Homo sapiens: one gene and its partners. The protein of the gene in region 1 purifies or fractionates together with the protein of each later gene. This does not show direct contact. Each region holds a gene or a part of one and is shown on either strand. Other genes may lie near its edges.

Region 1 (5,640 bases):
GCCAAAGGGGTGCACACTCAGGGACAAGGACATTTGAAGGTGAAGGCATATCAGAGGGATGCTTGCACAAGCCAAGCAGTGTCAATGATTTCCAGCAAACCACCAGGAAAGCTAGGATCCTTCAGATCACATCCTTCAGAAGGAACCAACCCTTGTCCAGGCACAGTGGCTCATGCCTTAATCCCAGCATTTTGGGAGGCCAAGGTGGGTGGATTACTTGAGGTTAGGAGTTCGAGACCAGCCTGGCCAACATGGTGTAACCTCGTCTCTACTAAAACAACAAAAATTAGCCAGGCGTGGTGGCACGCACCTGTAATCCCAGCTACCTGGGGAGCTGAGGCAGGTGAATCGCTTGAACCCGGGAGGCGGAGGGTACAGTGAGCAAGGTCACACCATTGCACTCCAGCCTGGGCGACGAGTGAGACTCTGTTTCAAAAAAAAAAAAAAAAAAAGAAGGAAGCAACCCTGTCAGTACTTTGATACTTTGATTTCAGATTTCTAGCCTCCAAAAGAGTGAGACAAGAAATCTGTGTTTATTGTTTAAGCCACTGATTTTGTGGTATTTTGTTACAGCATCCCTCACAAACTGATACAAGGTGTGATGAGGAAGAAATGACTCTCTTCCTACCCATAAGTGGATTATGAGTCCCCAAGATTTGAAATTAATGTGAGATGGTAGCTACATTTTCATCCTCTACTCAGAACTTAGTGATGTCTGTTTTCCCAGGCAATATCACTCCAATGAAACACTTCTCATATTTTGAATTTTCATTAAGAAATATTCAGATTTGGCTAGGTGCAGTGGCTCACACCTGTAATCCCAGGATTTTGGGTGGCCAAGGTGGGCAGATCACTTGAGCCCAGGAGTTCGAGACCAGCCTGAGCAACATGGCAAAATCCCATCTTTACAAAATACAAAATTAGCCAGGCGTGGTGGCAGGCACCTGTAATGCTAGCTACTCAGGAGGCTGAGGTAGGAGGATCACCCGAGCCTGGGAGGTAGAGGCTGCGGTGAGTCATGATTGTGCCACTGCACTCCAGCCTGAGTGAGACCCTGTTTAAAAACAAATTTTTTTTAAATAAAGAAATATTCAGATTCAAGATACAAATATAATTCTCATCAAGATGGCATTATGTGGACTGGATCAAGCCAAGTAACAATATTTTGGGATCTTAGCCATTTACTGACTGTTTTCACTTAAATAGTCAAACCCATAATCCCCATATCTCTCTGGTCACAAAGGCACTAAAATAACTAAAGTGGTTTAACCTGAGAAATAGGTTAGCCTGAAATTAATGATTAGCAACTCCTCGTACGTATAATGGGAAATTAATGATTGGCAACTCCTTATACGAACTACAGAAATTTACAAACTGACAATCAATATTTACTTTTGCTTATGCTGTCCATCATTTCCTAGGTCCTGGGAGCTCCTTTAAGTCAACACCTACCTCGAGGAGATTCCAGGTCAGAGAGGCACGAGGAATTTCTTAGTAGTTGATTTTCTGCTGACATCTGTCCCTTTTTCATCCCCCATCCCCATTATGTCATGGCAAGCTTATTAACTTATTAAGTTGTTGCCTAACTAACTATACAAGATATTTCCATACCTTCTATACTTTTCTCCTGTTCCTCCTCCAATGAAAGGCTGGTTTCTGATCCCTCATAACTTGGTTCTTCACCAGAGAACTCTGTGGTTTCTGAATTCTCGAAGTCCTCTTCACCATCATATCCAACGTGCTCTGGGTCATCATAAACCTCCTCTTCCACAGTGGCTTCTGCATCTTCAGGGGTGTCAACAGATCCTAGATATTCCTCTTTTCCTAAGTATAAAGAATCATCTAGCTCCTCATATCTCTGTCCATCTTTTATATATGTAATAGTTGCTGGAACTTCACATCCAACTTTCTCAACTGAATATGATAATGTGACTTCTGGTGTGTCATATTCCTTCTCATTCTTCCTGGCAGACAAAGCTGTTTCCCTATAACTAGTTTTCTTGTCCCTGAAAAACTCAGAGGTTTCCAAATCCAAGTGTTCCTTCTCACTGAAGAACACTGTGATCTCAGGGGCTTCAGGCTGTTTTATTCCAGGAGAAAAAGCATCTTCTGAATTACTGCTTGCCCCCATAGATTGAGGAGGTACTGTATTCTCATGTTTTAAAACTTCTGCAAAGAAAAGAATTGTTTTTCCCAATTAAGAAAAAGAAGCTGTATAACAGCTAGAGTTCCTGAGGCCTCAAAGCTTCATCCCTCTCCTTTTATTTATTTATTTATTTTTTGAGACAGAGTTTCACTCTTGTTGCCGAGGCTGGAGTGCAATGGCACGATCTGGGCTCACTGCAACCTCAACCTCCCGGGTTCAGGTGATTCCCCTGCCTCAGTCTCCCAAGTAGCTGGGATTACAGGCATGCGCCATGATGCCCAGCTAATTTTTGTATTTTTAGTAGAGACAGTGTTTCACTATGTTGGTCAGGCTGGTCTCAAACTCCTGACCTCAGGTGATCCATCTGCCCCGGCCTCCCAAAGTGCTGGGATTACAGGTGTGAGCCACAGCGCCCAGCCACCTCTTATTTCACTGGAGGACAGGAATACCTAACACCTCCTATATAACTTGCATGTCAACATGTCAACTTTCAGAACTTTCTTTTTTCCACTAAAAAAAAAAATCAGATCACACCACTGTCTTGCTTAAAGTTTGAGTCCTTCCTAGCAACCTTACAGGGTAAGTGAATAAAACGAAAAATTTGAATCATATGAACAGTGTTTACTTGTGGACTTACTGTGACTCACAACAGACTCACGTCTCTTGGGGTCATTGCTAATGAAATCTGATCACAAATAATTTCTAATCAGTAAGCAAATGGCTCTATTTGGAATAGTGTGCTTTAGAAATAATAAAAGAAAAATTTCTAAGCATATAAATCTTGTCCTAAATTAGGTATCACTAACATTCACCTTTTTATCTGAGCCTCTACCTCTCTAACATCCCTTAAAATAATTTTGAATTTTTTTTTAGATTCCTAGAAAAAGAGCTAGACCTAGTCCTAGTAGTAATTTACAGAATTGCTAAATAACTGGAAGAATTGCTTTTTCATGGACTACTAGTTATCTTTGAACCATTTAAGAATTAGCACTGGAATTGCTCCAGAAAACAGCTGCTGCTGGCATTCTTATCACCAAAAAAATGAAACTACTGATTTGCCATCTATGTGTTAAAAATTATTTTCCTTGTATTTTCAAAACGGCTATACTAAGTGAAAGATACAGCTTGTGGTCTTGGCACTGTAAATATCCACGAATTCATCTACTTGAAAAACAAACCCTGGATTGTGTTATTATTAAAGTATTTTCCTTCCAACTGTGAGATTTTAGCATGTTACTGCCAGAATAATGAGCAGTTTGTTAGCACTAAAACAACTTCAAGTTTTGAGTACAGTCTGAAAAACAAATTATCGATTCAGTAGACCAATAAGATGTTAAATTTCAGAAACTTTTTAAATTCCAGTTTTTCCCTATTTCATATTTCAATGAAAATTATCTCCAGAAAAAGACTAACAAAAATAAAAGGCAACAATTTTCTTTCATTTTGTTTTCTTTTTCAGAAAGTCTGCCCCCTTCCTCTCACCCCAAAAAGTATACAAAGTCAACTTACCATGCCTTAAGCCGCAAATGGCAGCTGACTGTGGAAAAGTACTAAATAAACACTTGAGAAAATGCTGACAGGTCGCCTCTCCCTTTTTCTGTACCAAAATTAACAGCTTCCGACTTTTCTTCAGGAGATCTGTAACATTCTCCAGAGTCTCATACTCTTCCTCAGAAATCAGCCTCCGAGAAGTTAACGTGTCTAAGATAGAATCAGGATCATGTTGAAGGATTTCAAGCAACTTTTTTCTTTCTCTTTCTATGATCTCTGAGGGAGTACTCTCGGTAGCCATTGTTCCTGTTTCCTCTAAACCAGGAAATATATTATGAAATCATCCTAATGAATAAGTAAAAGTTAAAAAAAGAATGACAAAGAACAATTCTATTTGGCTAAGCTTTAACATGTCAATGATGCCTAGTGTTGGAGAGTGCAGATACAAGCACAGTGGGGCAACCCAGCTCGGAGCACTCTCTGATCCGGGGTCCTTGTGGATTATTTATCTGCTCTTTTGAAGTCTTGATAAATTCTCACCATGACTCAGACCCAGGGTCACCTCCTCCAAGAAGTCGCTCTTGAACTTCAGGTTGGACTAGGTATTCCCTGCTCAGAGAACTATACTATGATGCCAAGAATGTAAATTATTAATTGATATTTGGTGGGCAATATGGCAATATACAGCAATAAATAAATAAAGTTGAAGACAGACAAAAATAAAACTTCATATCCTTCAACCCAGCAATTCCAGTTCTAGGAAATTATCTTAAGGAAATAATTGAGCAAATGCCCGAAGATGTATGTACAAGAATCTGCATTACAACATTGTTTACAACAGTACAAAATTGAAAATAACCAAAGTTGGGGTTTAGGGAATAAATATTGACATGTCGACAGTGAAACACCAAAGAACTGTTAAAAAGGATAAAGTACATCTCTACATATTGACAAGTAATGATATCCATGATATATTGCTATGGAAACAGCAAGTTATAGATCTCATTTTTGTTTTAAAAAACTTAATGTGTATATAGTATATGTATATAATATGTATATGCAGATATGCATTATATTTTAAAGAAGACAAGAGATATCCCAAATTTTAACACTGGTTATCTCTGAGAATATGACTACAGGGAGATTTATACTTCCACTTTAAACATTACTATTTAATATTTTACATTTTTGGTTTTTTATTATTATTTATTTTAAGAAAATTACCTGGTTGGTCTTTATTTACTCCTTCATAGTTCACAAGAACCTGAAAGCGATCTGCATAACTAGCAACAGGATACTGGATGAATAAACTGTGATATTTCTTATAACATAATATTACATGGCATTCAAAAAGAATGAACTTCAGTGACCCACAATATAGAGAAATCATAACAATAGTAAGGAAAAACTGTAAATCCCAAAAGATTATATACAGTATGACAACCTTTTTAAAAGTTGAAAATAAACACACCCTTACATTTAAGAGTATACATGAAGTCATTAAAATTATACAAAACAAAAAGCAAAGAATGATAAATATGAAATTCAGAATGATGGTTACCTCGCATATGGGGAGCTTGGGGATGGGATGGGATTGGGGAGGAGATCATGGATGTCCTACAATGTAGGAGTTGGGCCTATCAGGGCTACTATATTGTTAAAGGTAAATAGCTAATATGTAAATAAAAGCAGAACATGCATGAACCAATGCTATTAGGAACCAAGGATAATGAGTAATACAATTCTGGTATCTCCAAGGTTAAAAAAGAATTTTAAAATCCTGGCTGGGCGAGGTGGCTCATGCCTGTAATCCCAGCACTTTGGGAGTCTGAGGAAGATCACTTGAGACCAGGAGTTTGAGGCCAACCTGAGCAACATAGCAAGACCCTGTCTCTACAAAAAATTTAAAAATTATCTGGTCGTGATGGTGCGCATCTGTAGTCCCAGCTGCTTGGGACAGGAGGCTGAGGCAGGAGAGCTGCTTCGGCCCAGAAGTTTGAGGT
Region 2 (5,143 bases), on another chromosome or scaffold:
CAAGTGTTTTTCTAGTGTATGTGTGATCACTGATATTTGCTTACACAAGACTATCAAAGTCTTATCTCTTATTCAAAGAAAAGGATTCAATATTTGTTCAAAATCTAAGATATGAACGTAGGATTTAAGGTTTAAGTTACTAGTTTCTTCTATCATTCTTATTATTGGGGGGATTTTTTTTAGGCAAGAAGAAATTAGAAAAGCTAAAATGTGTACTTATGCTGAATTTTTGTCATGCAGAGGCTCTAGGTATTTTGCAAGTTTTCAGAAGTCCCATTTTCTTTTATCTTCTAGGGACAGTCAGTTGCATGTCACACAAGGGGCCTCCTTTGATTTATCCAAAAGGTCTGACCTGGTTTCTGGAAAAACTCTTTAGCGCATCAAATACTCGTTGAGGGCAAGTGTTGTTTCTAAACTTGACTCTTGTGGTGAGAGGTGAGTAGTCACTGGCATGTCAGTTAGCTGACATTTTTTACCCACGCTAGAAAGTTCATTCAGGCAAGACTTCCTGGCTTGAACTCTTATTTAAACATGTGTTTTATCTGGAACTGCCACAGTCCAAACTGTGGGCAGAGATTCCTGTGCAGAGTTGGCTAAGGCAGGCATGCCACCGGCCCTTCTCTTCGCCATCCTCCCTGTCTCTGGAGCCATTGAGCCAACCGGGGATGATGCCACTCTGAAGGGATCTCACCTTGGTCCTCTAATGGGGCAGAGTTCCCTGATGAGGGATGCACGTCCTTAGAGCCAACAAGGCAATTTTGTATTATACTGCATGGAAATTAAAAGTTACTCTCCAGTAAACTGCCACTTTAGAATTTGTTTTACTGAAGCGTCCTTTTCCTCTAAATTATAGAGCACTGTAGTAAGGGCCCAGATAATTTCAAAGTGAGCACCAGATTAGTGCCAGATTTTGGCAGATTAAGATTTTAATAAAACATGAACATTCACCTTGATTACATTTGTTTCAGAAAGTTGATGTCCCTTGGCCTTCTGTTCTGTCATTGCCACCATACAGGTTAGGGTCAGAATTGGGAGAATGTAGTCATTTGGTAGATATTTTCAGAGCCACATGCAACTGGGCCTGGCAGTCACATATTGCTAAGGAAACGCCTTACATGATAGCAGAGCTGAGAGCAGATGATGATTTACTTGGGAGAGTATTCGTTTTCTAATTCCCAAAAGATTAAAAGTCTAATGAGTAAGAACTTCCCCTGCTTCTTGTAACACATGCCCAGATTGCTGCCTATGACCTCAAAACCAAACCTTCTTGGAAGGAACTGGGGGAAAGCTAGGCTTTTTTGGCAGGGGATATCCTAACTCCTTACAACACAGGCCCCTTCAGTGAGTGGGTCATTTCTGGACTCCATTTAACAAAGCTAGTGTTTCATACTTAATATGAAAACAGGCGTGTTGATGATTTCAAATAGAGATGTTGGGTCTATAAAGTATACCAGACATGCAGGGCTGAAATGGAAGAAACAATGGGTTTTGGAGTCAGAACCAGGATCCAATTCCTGTTTTATTCCTTACTTCAGGGGTCCCCAATCCCTAGGCCATGGACCAATACCAGTCGGTGGCCTCTTAGGTGGGCCGCACAGCAGAAGGTGAGCAGCAGTGAGCAAGCATTACCGCCTGAACTCTGCCTCCTGTCAGATCAGCGGTGGCATCAGATTCTCATGCGAGGGGAACCCTATGGTGAACCGCACACGCGAGGGATCTAGGCTGCACATTCCTTATGAGAATTTAATGCCTGATGATCTGAGGTAGACAGTTTCATCCTAAAACGATCTCCCCTGTGCCCCTACTCGCCGCTGTCTGTGGAAAAATTGTCTTCCATGAAACCAGTTCCTCGTGCCAAAAAGGTTGGGGATCACTGCCTTAACTAACTGTGTGACCTTCACCAACATACTTAACCACTCCAACTCTGTGTCCTCCTTTGTAAACTAGTTACAATAATGCTTTCCTTGCTGGGCAGTTTTCAGTATTTGATGAGCTAATCTATGTAAAGTGCTTAGCACATCACCCAGCTTCTAGTAAGTCATGATTATGATGATAAAGATTATGATGATTACTTTGGTTCCAGGGCTGGTCTTTCCTTCTCCTAGTTGTGTGACTTCAGATAAGGTTTTTAATCTTCTTGAGCCTTGGCTTTTGAATCTGTAAAATGGGCTAACTCTACCTATCTGGAAAGATTGCTTTGAGGCTTGATTTGATTAAATGAAATGATGACAGGCCTGATCTGGTAGACCCTAAATAAGAATAGCATTTACATAGACTTCCTGTGTCCCACACTGGTCTAAGAGTTTAGGGTTTTTGTTGTTTGTTTTTAGCTCATTTTATCTTCCCAGCGCCCCTGTGCAGTGGTTATCATTTCCCTTGTTTTATAGAGGAGACAACTGAGGCTCAACAAGATTAAATAACTAGCCCAAAGTCTATCCCAGGACTTGAAGCAGAGTCCCTGTTCTTAACCACTGCCCCAGCTGCTCAGTGAGTACCCCCACCCCTGCTTATTCTACCTACCTCCTGATGCCCATCTCCTGCCATTAACAGTCAGATGTGCTTATGCTCTGTGTAGGGCCATATTTCTGGAAACAGAGCCCCTGCTTCCAAAGAGCAGCTTACTTAGGAAGTGAAAGTGGCAGCTCACTCCTCCTGTCGCCTCCTCCCACTTCCAGATAACATTAAACCTCATCCATTGCTTAGGCTGGTTAATATCAACTGGAAAAAAAAATCTGATACCGATATTGACTAACATTATTAGAGTGGGTTGCAATGTTAGTTTTGAGATAAATGTCATCTCGATGCACTGAGATTGTTAGCCTGTGTGTAATAAAACATGCCTTCACCCAGACAGATGTGGGGGGTGTTTGGAAGACAGAAACCAGGCCTAGGAGATCCCAGGTTGAGACTCAGGTGGACAGCAACAGTATTGAAAATAATATTACATCAAAGGTGCAGTGGTCTGTTCTAAGTACACCACCTTTTCTGACATTCCTTACTCATCCTCCCTCTCCTTTACCCCAGTGGCTTTGGCCTCTTCTTGAGTTCTGGCAATCTTCCCTGAGGTCTGGGTCAGTGGAATTTGGGGGCCCAGAAAGGCAAATTCTCAGTTGAGTGAGGTGTGGCTTCTTTAGCATTCCTGATAATGAGGTAGTAATTGCTTTTCTGGCTTTCTGTGTGTGTGAAGTGCTCTGCTGGCCCCCTACCCTGGTGTGGAAGGCTGTTAGAAAGCTATTTATAGCTCTTGGTTCCTTCTGGCACTTTGGGGCTTCAATTCTGCAACATGTTAATTCAACAAATATTATCAGAAAGTCTTGCTGGTGCCAGGAGTCTACTAAGTACTTGGATTACAGCAATGAATGAAACAGACCCTGCCTCTGGCCATATGGAATTTGGAGGCTGCCGGGTGGAGAGGATGTCTTAGTCAGCTTGGGTTGCTAAAACTATCACAGACTGGGGGACTTAAGCAACAAACATTTATCTCTCACAGTTCTGCAGGCTGGAAGTGTGAGACCTGGTTGCCAGCATGGGAGTTTGGTGAGGACCCTCTTCCTGATTTGTGAAAGAGGTTTCTCATGTCTCTTGCTATAAGGGCACTAATCCCATCATTGGGGCTCCACCCCCACGACCTCATTTAAACCTATTCACCTCCCAACAGCCCTATCTGTAAACACCATCAAATCGGGGGTTCTCCCTCACCATGTGAACTTTGGAGGGACATAAACATCAGTCCATAAGTAGGAGGTTAGGGCAGTAAGCACACAGGTAAATACATAATTGTAACTTGTGGAAAGTGCTTTAAGTGAAAACAACAGCATGTCATGAGACAGGAGATCAGAGCAGAACTAGAATTAGGAGAGTCTGGGGACGCCTCTCAAGGAATGAGCCTTTTCAACTAGGACTTGGGATGAAAAAAAGAGTGAAATCATGCTGGATGCAGAGAACAGTGGGTTCAAAGACCCAGAGGTGAATGGGAAGGATGTGGGTGTGTTGAGTGGCTGGTGTGGTAAGGCCCAAGCCCAGGAGGGTACAGAGCTAAATAATGAGACACACTCAGGCCAAGTAGGGCCTCCTGGGCTGGGTAAGGATTTGGGATTTTATTCTGAAGTGCGGAGGGAAGCTTTGGAGGAATTTCCCCTCCTGACTTTTTCCTGTCATTCATAATATACAAGAAAAAGATCATTAGTCACTTCTATTTATTCAGATAATGAACAATCTCTACTTCTTAAGCTATATAAACCTTGTCTTAGTGTGTGAAACAATTCTGGAGTGTCTAGTTTTCAATCTCCAGATGAGGGAACTGAGGCTCAAAACAAAGTGAAAGAAGGCAGAGGCAGGATTTGGAACCAGGCCTGCCCAGCCCACGGCACATGCTCTGTAGTTTTCTGGGACAGATGAGTGTAAATGCATATGGGCCTCCTAGGCACCCGGCATCCTTCATCAGGAGCTTCAGTGGATGGACTAGGGTGGAGTCCAGTCCTTCCTGGCTCTTTAGAAACAGGAACAAAAGACCCCGAAGAGTGGAGGGAGGTTGGGCATGTACAGGTCAGGGGGTCAGAATCTGTAGGCACCAAATGTCAGGGCCCCCTGGCTATGGGAAGGGCTGTCAGTTTTTCACGCTAGTCTGTTCTGCTCCGCCTAGCTGTTGCCCAGAAATCCCAAAGAGGGTGCCTTCCCAGCTCTGTTCACCTTTGAAAATCTGAATTCATCATTTGTGTGCACTTGAGAGACCCAGGGTTTGGTAAAAACAAAATTCTTTATTGGGTGTTTTCAGGTCACAGGAAAAGCCTCCACTGTGTGGGACCCACATCCTTAGCACTGCATGCTGGCTGCTTCCAGGCATCTGCACTGACCCTGTTTCTCCTTCCTTGCTGTGAAGCGGTCATGAGGTTGCAGTGCCAGATGTGTTGCAGGCCAGGTGTATCTCGGCTGGTTGGGCAGGCCTTCTGCTTAACATGGGACCTCACTTAGTGAGGGAAGAGAGCAGTCCTGGCCCAAGGGGTGCAGTGTCTGGGGCAGATGCTTTAGGGGTTATGGCTCTATCATCTTCTCAACCTCTTAATGCCACTCAGGGTCACCACACATAAATCCCTGGGTACTCTCCCACTTAGCTCTGTGACAGGTTTGTGTCCTAGATGCTTGC
Region 3 (5,143 bases), on another chromosome or scaffold:
GTAGAATCTAGGTGGTGAGTACTTGGGTGTTCACTATAGAATTCCTTAAACTTGTCTTCTGTGTGTTTGAAAATTTTCATAATAAAATGCTGGTTAAAAATGTGTTTTCCCTAGGAGTAAGAAAAATATTCATGGCCGTAGGTTTGTAACTTGTTAAAGGACTTTTTGTCCCTCCTCTAACATGCACTTTTATAACAACCTTATGATGCTGCCAGAAGATTTTAATGGCTTAATCTATTTCATTGAATGTTTATGTTATAATGTTAACTTTATACTCTCATCCTGAGGTGACTACGGCAACTGGAATGTATTTATAATTTGAAATAATAAAATAAAGCTTGATGTAAGAGAGGAAATGCAGGAACCTTTCTGGTGAGCTCAAAGTGGACATATTTTGTGATTAATACCATTGTTCATTTGTTGCTAGGAGAAAGAAGGTGTATGGTGTGTGTGGGTGTGTGTGTGGGGGGGGGTTGATTTGTGTACGACATTTTGTCCCATGGGGTCAAGAACACTTTAATATATTACATGAAAACAATGTAAAACCACACAGACCAGTTTTTTCAGTTGGAAATAATGTCAATGAAGTTCAGGCCATGAGTTCAATCCCAAGCACGTCCAATTGAATTTTCTCTGAAGGAAAACTCAAATTAATGACTGAGGACTGTATGAGGCCTAGCAACTTTACACTGTTGGACCACTGATCACATCAAAGATTAGAAAACAGAATGAACTGGCCGGGGGCAGTGGCTCACGCCTGTAATCCCAGCACTTTGGGAGGCTGAGGCAGGCGGATCACCTGAGGTCAGGAGTTTGAGATCAGTCTGGCCAACATGGTGAAACCACATCTCTACTAAAAATTAAAAAATTAGCCAGGCATGGTGGTGCACCCTTGTAGTCTCACCTACTCGGGAGGCTGAGGCAGGAGAATTGCTTGAACACAAGAGGCGAAGATTGCGCCACTGCACTCCAGCCTGGGTGACAGAGCGAGACTCTGTCTCAAAAAAACAAACTAAAACAAAACAAAAACAGAATAAACTGATAATCATCTTTATTCTCAAATATGAGATGAATGCGGGTGTGGTTTACTAAGTGCTGTGGGGAATGCAGACAGCTGGATACCCCTGCCTCATTTGGGGGCACTCACAATCTAAATGGGATAGTGGGACATATGCACAATAATAATAATAATAAACGAAAATTAATATTTATATAGCACTTTTAGTTATGACATGTTATCACGTATGATCTCACTTAGAAGAAAACGTATTGCAACAATTTAAATCATAGCATTATGTATAATAGCAAAATGCTGGGAATACTCTAAAGGTCCCAAAAATGAAAGAATAATTAAATAAACCCTAATATATCAATTCAATGAAACATTATACATTCCTTAACATCAATGGTATAGAAGTACATATACCAATATATAAATTTTTTTTAAAAGACAGTCTCACTCTCTCACCAACGTTGGAGGGCAGTGGTGTGATCATAGCTCACTGCAGCCTCCAACTGCTGGCCTCAAGGGACCCTCACTCCTGAGCCTCCTAAGTAGCTGGGACTCCAGATGCATGCCACTGTGCCCAGCTAATTTTATTTTTTGTGAGGAAACAGTCTCACTATGTTGACCAGGCTACGTATTTTTACCATATTTGGTATGTGAAAGAAGCAAATTACAATAGAATCATATATTTTAAATTCCATTTTTTGTAAAAAGAAAATCACATATATAAAAAATATATACAGATTACACACACATACCCACACATACATATAAACAGTGAAATGTTTGAGCTGGCTCATACTGACTCAAGAGAGCAGACTGTTAAAATAGGAATTTTGTGAGCCAGTTGTTAAACAACTGGTAGCTTGATCAATCATGATGAGAATATACGCATTTGAGAAATCAGCAAACACTGAAAATCAGGGCTTGTTTTCCCCAACAGTTTACTAGCATACCATTATAAAAATATTAGTAAAGATATACAACAAAAACATTAGGAATTGTTCTGTCTGAGCAGTCAAATGAGAGCTTTTATTTTCCTCATTGTGCAAATCTGTTTTCTGCTCTTCTGTCATTTCAAAAAATGTTTTACTTGCATAATAAAATCAAGCTTAGAGTTTTGAAAGACTAAAACATACAAATTAAATACCAGCATATGCTAAGAACTGAATGAACGAAATGAGGGTTCAGAGGAGAAAGTAATTTTCTTGATGCGAAGGAAGGGGCTATATGAAACTGGAAGCTTTCTGCAGAATTGTAGACAAAGTAAAACTTCCATGATCAGTTGATGGAAATGAAAGAAGGTCCTAAAGCTCAGGCGGAACCTCTTGTAAGCCACTGTTTTTTCCCAGGTGATACATTTGTATTAGCATAGAGTTTTACATGTAGTCATAGGTGTTTAATACATTTGTAAAAGGCCCCAAGACCTCCTGCCACTGTTGGTTAGGAAAACTGATAAGAAACAAACTACTATTCTTGGAATTCTGCAAGACTCATCTAATTACTCAAAATCTGTTCTTATTTTTTGGTTTTTTATTTGTTTGTTGCTTGAGAGGTCTAAATAAAGCCAGAAATTAGATACTTTTATCAAAACTGAATACTCAAGGTAGTTTTTCAGTATCATCTACACCAAGGGACAGCAAATTTTCTGTGAAGTATTTATAAAAAAGTAAATATTTTATGATTCACACGCCATGGTCTCTGTTGCAACTGCTCAAGTCTGTCTCTGCAATGTGAAAGCAGTTGTAGCCAGTACATAAACCAGTGAGCAACGCTGTGTTCCAATAAGACTTTACCTACTAAAACAGGTGATGGGGGTATTAGGCCTGTGGGGTACAGTTTGCTAACCCCAATGTAGATAATCAGTAGGTTGATCCTTATTTTTTACTTTATCCCATTTTCAAGCATCATATATCCCACTTTTCAAGTATCATAGCAGAAGGAGCTTATTCCTTAGCTGAAATCATGCATGCTGATGTGAGCATAAATAATCTGTGGTACCAGAGACCCTAATTAAAATACTTTTTCCAAAGAAATACTATAATTTCCAATAAGCCACATTATCTTCACATGACACACATGCTCTGTAAGCCTACACAAAACCCAAATTGGTTAAATAGAAAATGCTGCAAAACCTTTGAAAAGCCACTTGCTTAATCTCACTGAACCTCAATTCCTGGACTGTAAAAATAAGATAATGACAGTTAACTCACAGGGTTTTACCATGGATGAAATTAAATACTGTATGTAAAAGCACCTTGCAAATGAAAAAAAAATTCTCTTCAAATGTAGACTATTAATATTTTAAATTCTTTATAAAGTTTAATATAGAAAGATATACTATGGTGAATCATTTTGCAATGTTCTGGAAAGGTTTCGGGAACTTCTTAGCCTTTATTTTATAAGCTCAGATTTTTCATGTACCATTTTTTCCTCACTATACCAGTAATAAAAAAGAAATGAGGGGAATTCCTTGAAATTGTAACTCATTTATATTTATTCCTCCCAATTAATTTATAAAAATTAGCATAAATGTAAAAGAATGATAAACAGAATTTTTAAAATGTTTTTGTGTTTTAGGTAAGAGATCTTTTCCCTGCTCTGGTTTGCTAGAGTATCTATTATAATGCGCAATAAGATTTTCCTTAAAATTATAAATAAATTCAAGGCATTATCCAAAGTTCGTATCATTCAAACTCAGGCTTAATGTGAAAACAATCATAAAAACTGTAACTACCATTTTAAATACAAGACTGATACAAATGAAATATGGTGCTCTCCCTATGCCTCCCTAAAGGAAAGAAGGAGCAAAGCCTAGTTAGTAGTATTTAGTCCAGAATCATTAGTGTAATGTATTGCAGTTTAACTGGGCCATCGTGCTGCATGAACTCAAACGCAGCATCTACCTAGCAAAAACACGAGTTTGGCTAGTACTCATCCAAAGGCAAGAAGAGTTAAACTGTCAAAAAACAATTTAGAAATATTATTAAATCCAATCCATAAGGAAGGGGGTAAGAATCACCATGCCTCTCCTTTGTTTGAGGGAAATAATTTTTATCTTTATGTAAAGCTGATGTCTTAGAGTTAAAACAGAATCAAACAGTCAGCAGGAAGAAATTCCAGTAAGATATTAAGTCAGGCTAATACACAAGAACAAACTGCTTTTCTTTTAATCTGGAAGCTAAGAGACTTGGAACCACATTTTGTATCTCAGCTCTAAGGTCATGGGTCCAATAACTCCTTGAAATAAATCAGCTGCATTAGAATCAGTGACTCCTTGTTGATGGAAGGGGTTTGCCTGTTGTTTTGTTTTTTATCTTTTATTTTGTTTTTGCTCCAAGAAGACAATGGCCCATTCAGAACTTTCTGGAAATAGGTCTTTTTATAGTGTTGAAACTTTATATATAGCTGAGAAGTTATCTCTTCAAAGCACCAAAAGTTTTCTTTCCTTAATAAAGTTAAAATATTTTTATGGTAAAAACTGAAAAATATAGAAAAGTAGATAATTGTTTTATTATATAGTTTTATATATTTTCCAGGATATTATCACTCATAACCCCACTATTCAGAAATTATTATTCTTAACATCTTGGTATGTTTCCTTGAGTTCAGGTTTATACTTGTCATCCTGTTTTTATATATATTATGTCATTAGCTTTGTCTTGGGTTACTCTTCGTGTTTAGAAACACTTTAAATGGCAGCAATGATAGGGTATTATCATTTATTGGATTGCCAAGATGACCAAACTTTTTCTTAATTTAAAATGGAACTACTAATAGAATGTACTACACAGTCCTCTGCTTTCTTCCACTGAGCATAGGGAATATAATTAGCTCTTTTTAAGGAGGCTTGAGAACATAGTCTGAGGCCTCATTTTCTTCACCTACAAAATGGGGACAATTACGTCTATGTCATGGTGAGGATTCAATGAATTGAGGCATGTAAGTACATATCAAACCATCTAGCACAAGAAGCTTTTGAGAAATGTCAGTTCCCCTTTTTCCTGTTACTCCACTTAAACATTATCTGTTTTCTTCTCACAGATAATGTTAAGAAATGATAAGGCCGGGCACGGTGGCTCACGCTTGTGGTCCCAGCACTTTGGGAGGCCGAGGCAGGCGGATCACGAGGTCAAG

The links. Proteins that work in one complex are often made in the same cells at the same time.
Region 2: the proteins of CARD6 (region 1) and NOD1 purify together in Homo sapiens (affinity purification with western blotting, with the first as the bait; one study listed by BioGRID). This does not show direct contact.
Region 3: the proteins of CARD6 (region 1) and XK purify together in Homo sapiens (affinity purification with western blotting, with the first as the bait; one study listed by BioGRID). This does not show direct contact.

The regions. Positions count from the first base shown.
Region 1 is NC_000005.10:40,839,681-40,845,320, reverse strand, and holds the start of CARD6 (caspase recruitment domain-containing protein 6), read right to left. Parts: upstream 3,955-5,640; 5' UTR 3,939-3,954; coding exon 3,656-3,938; intron 2,170-3,655; coding exon 1,612-2,169; intron 427-1,611; exon of another isoform or gene 311-426; intron 1-310. UniProt on the Homo sapiens protein: May be involved in apoptosis.
Region 2 is NC_000007.14:30,471,140-30,476,282, reverse strand, and holds part of NOD1 (nucleotide-binding oligomerization domain-containing protein 1), read left to right. Parts: intron 1-294; exon of another isoform or gene 295-435; intron 436-5,143. UniProt on the Homo sapiens protein: Pattern recognition receptor (PRR) that detects bacterial peptidoglycan fragments and other danger signals and thus participates in both innate and adaptive immune responses.
Region 3 is NC_000023.11:37,688,293-37,693,435, reverse strand, and holds part of XK (endoplasmic reticulum membrane adapter protein XK), read right to left. Parts: intron 1-5,143.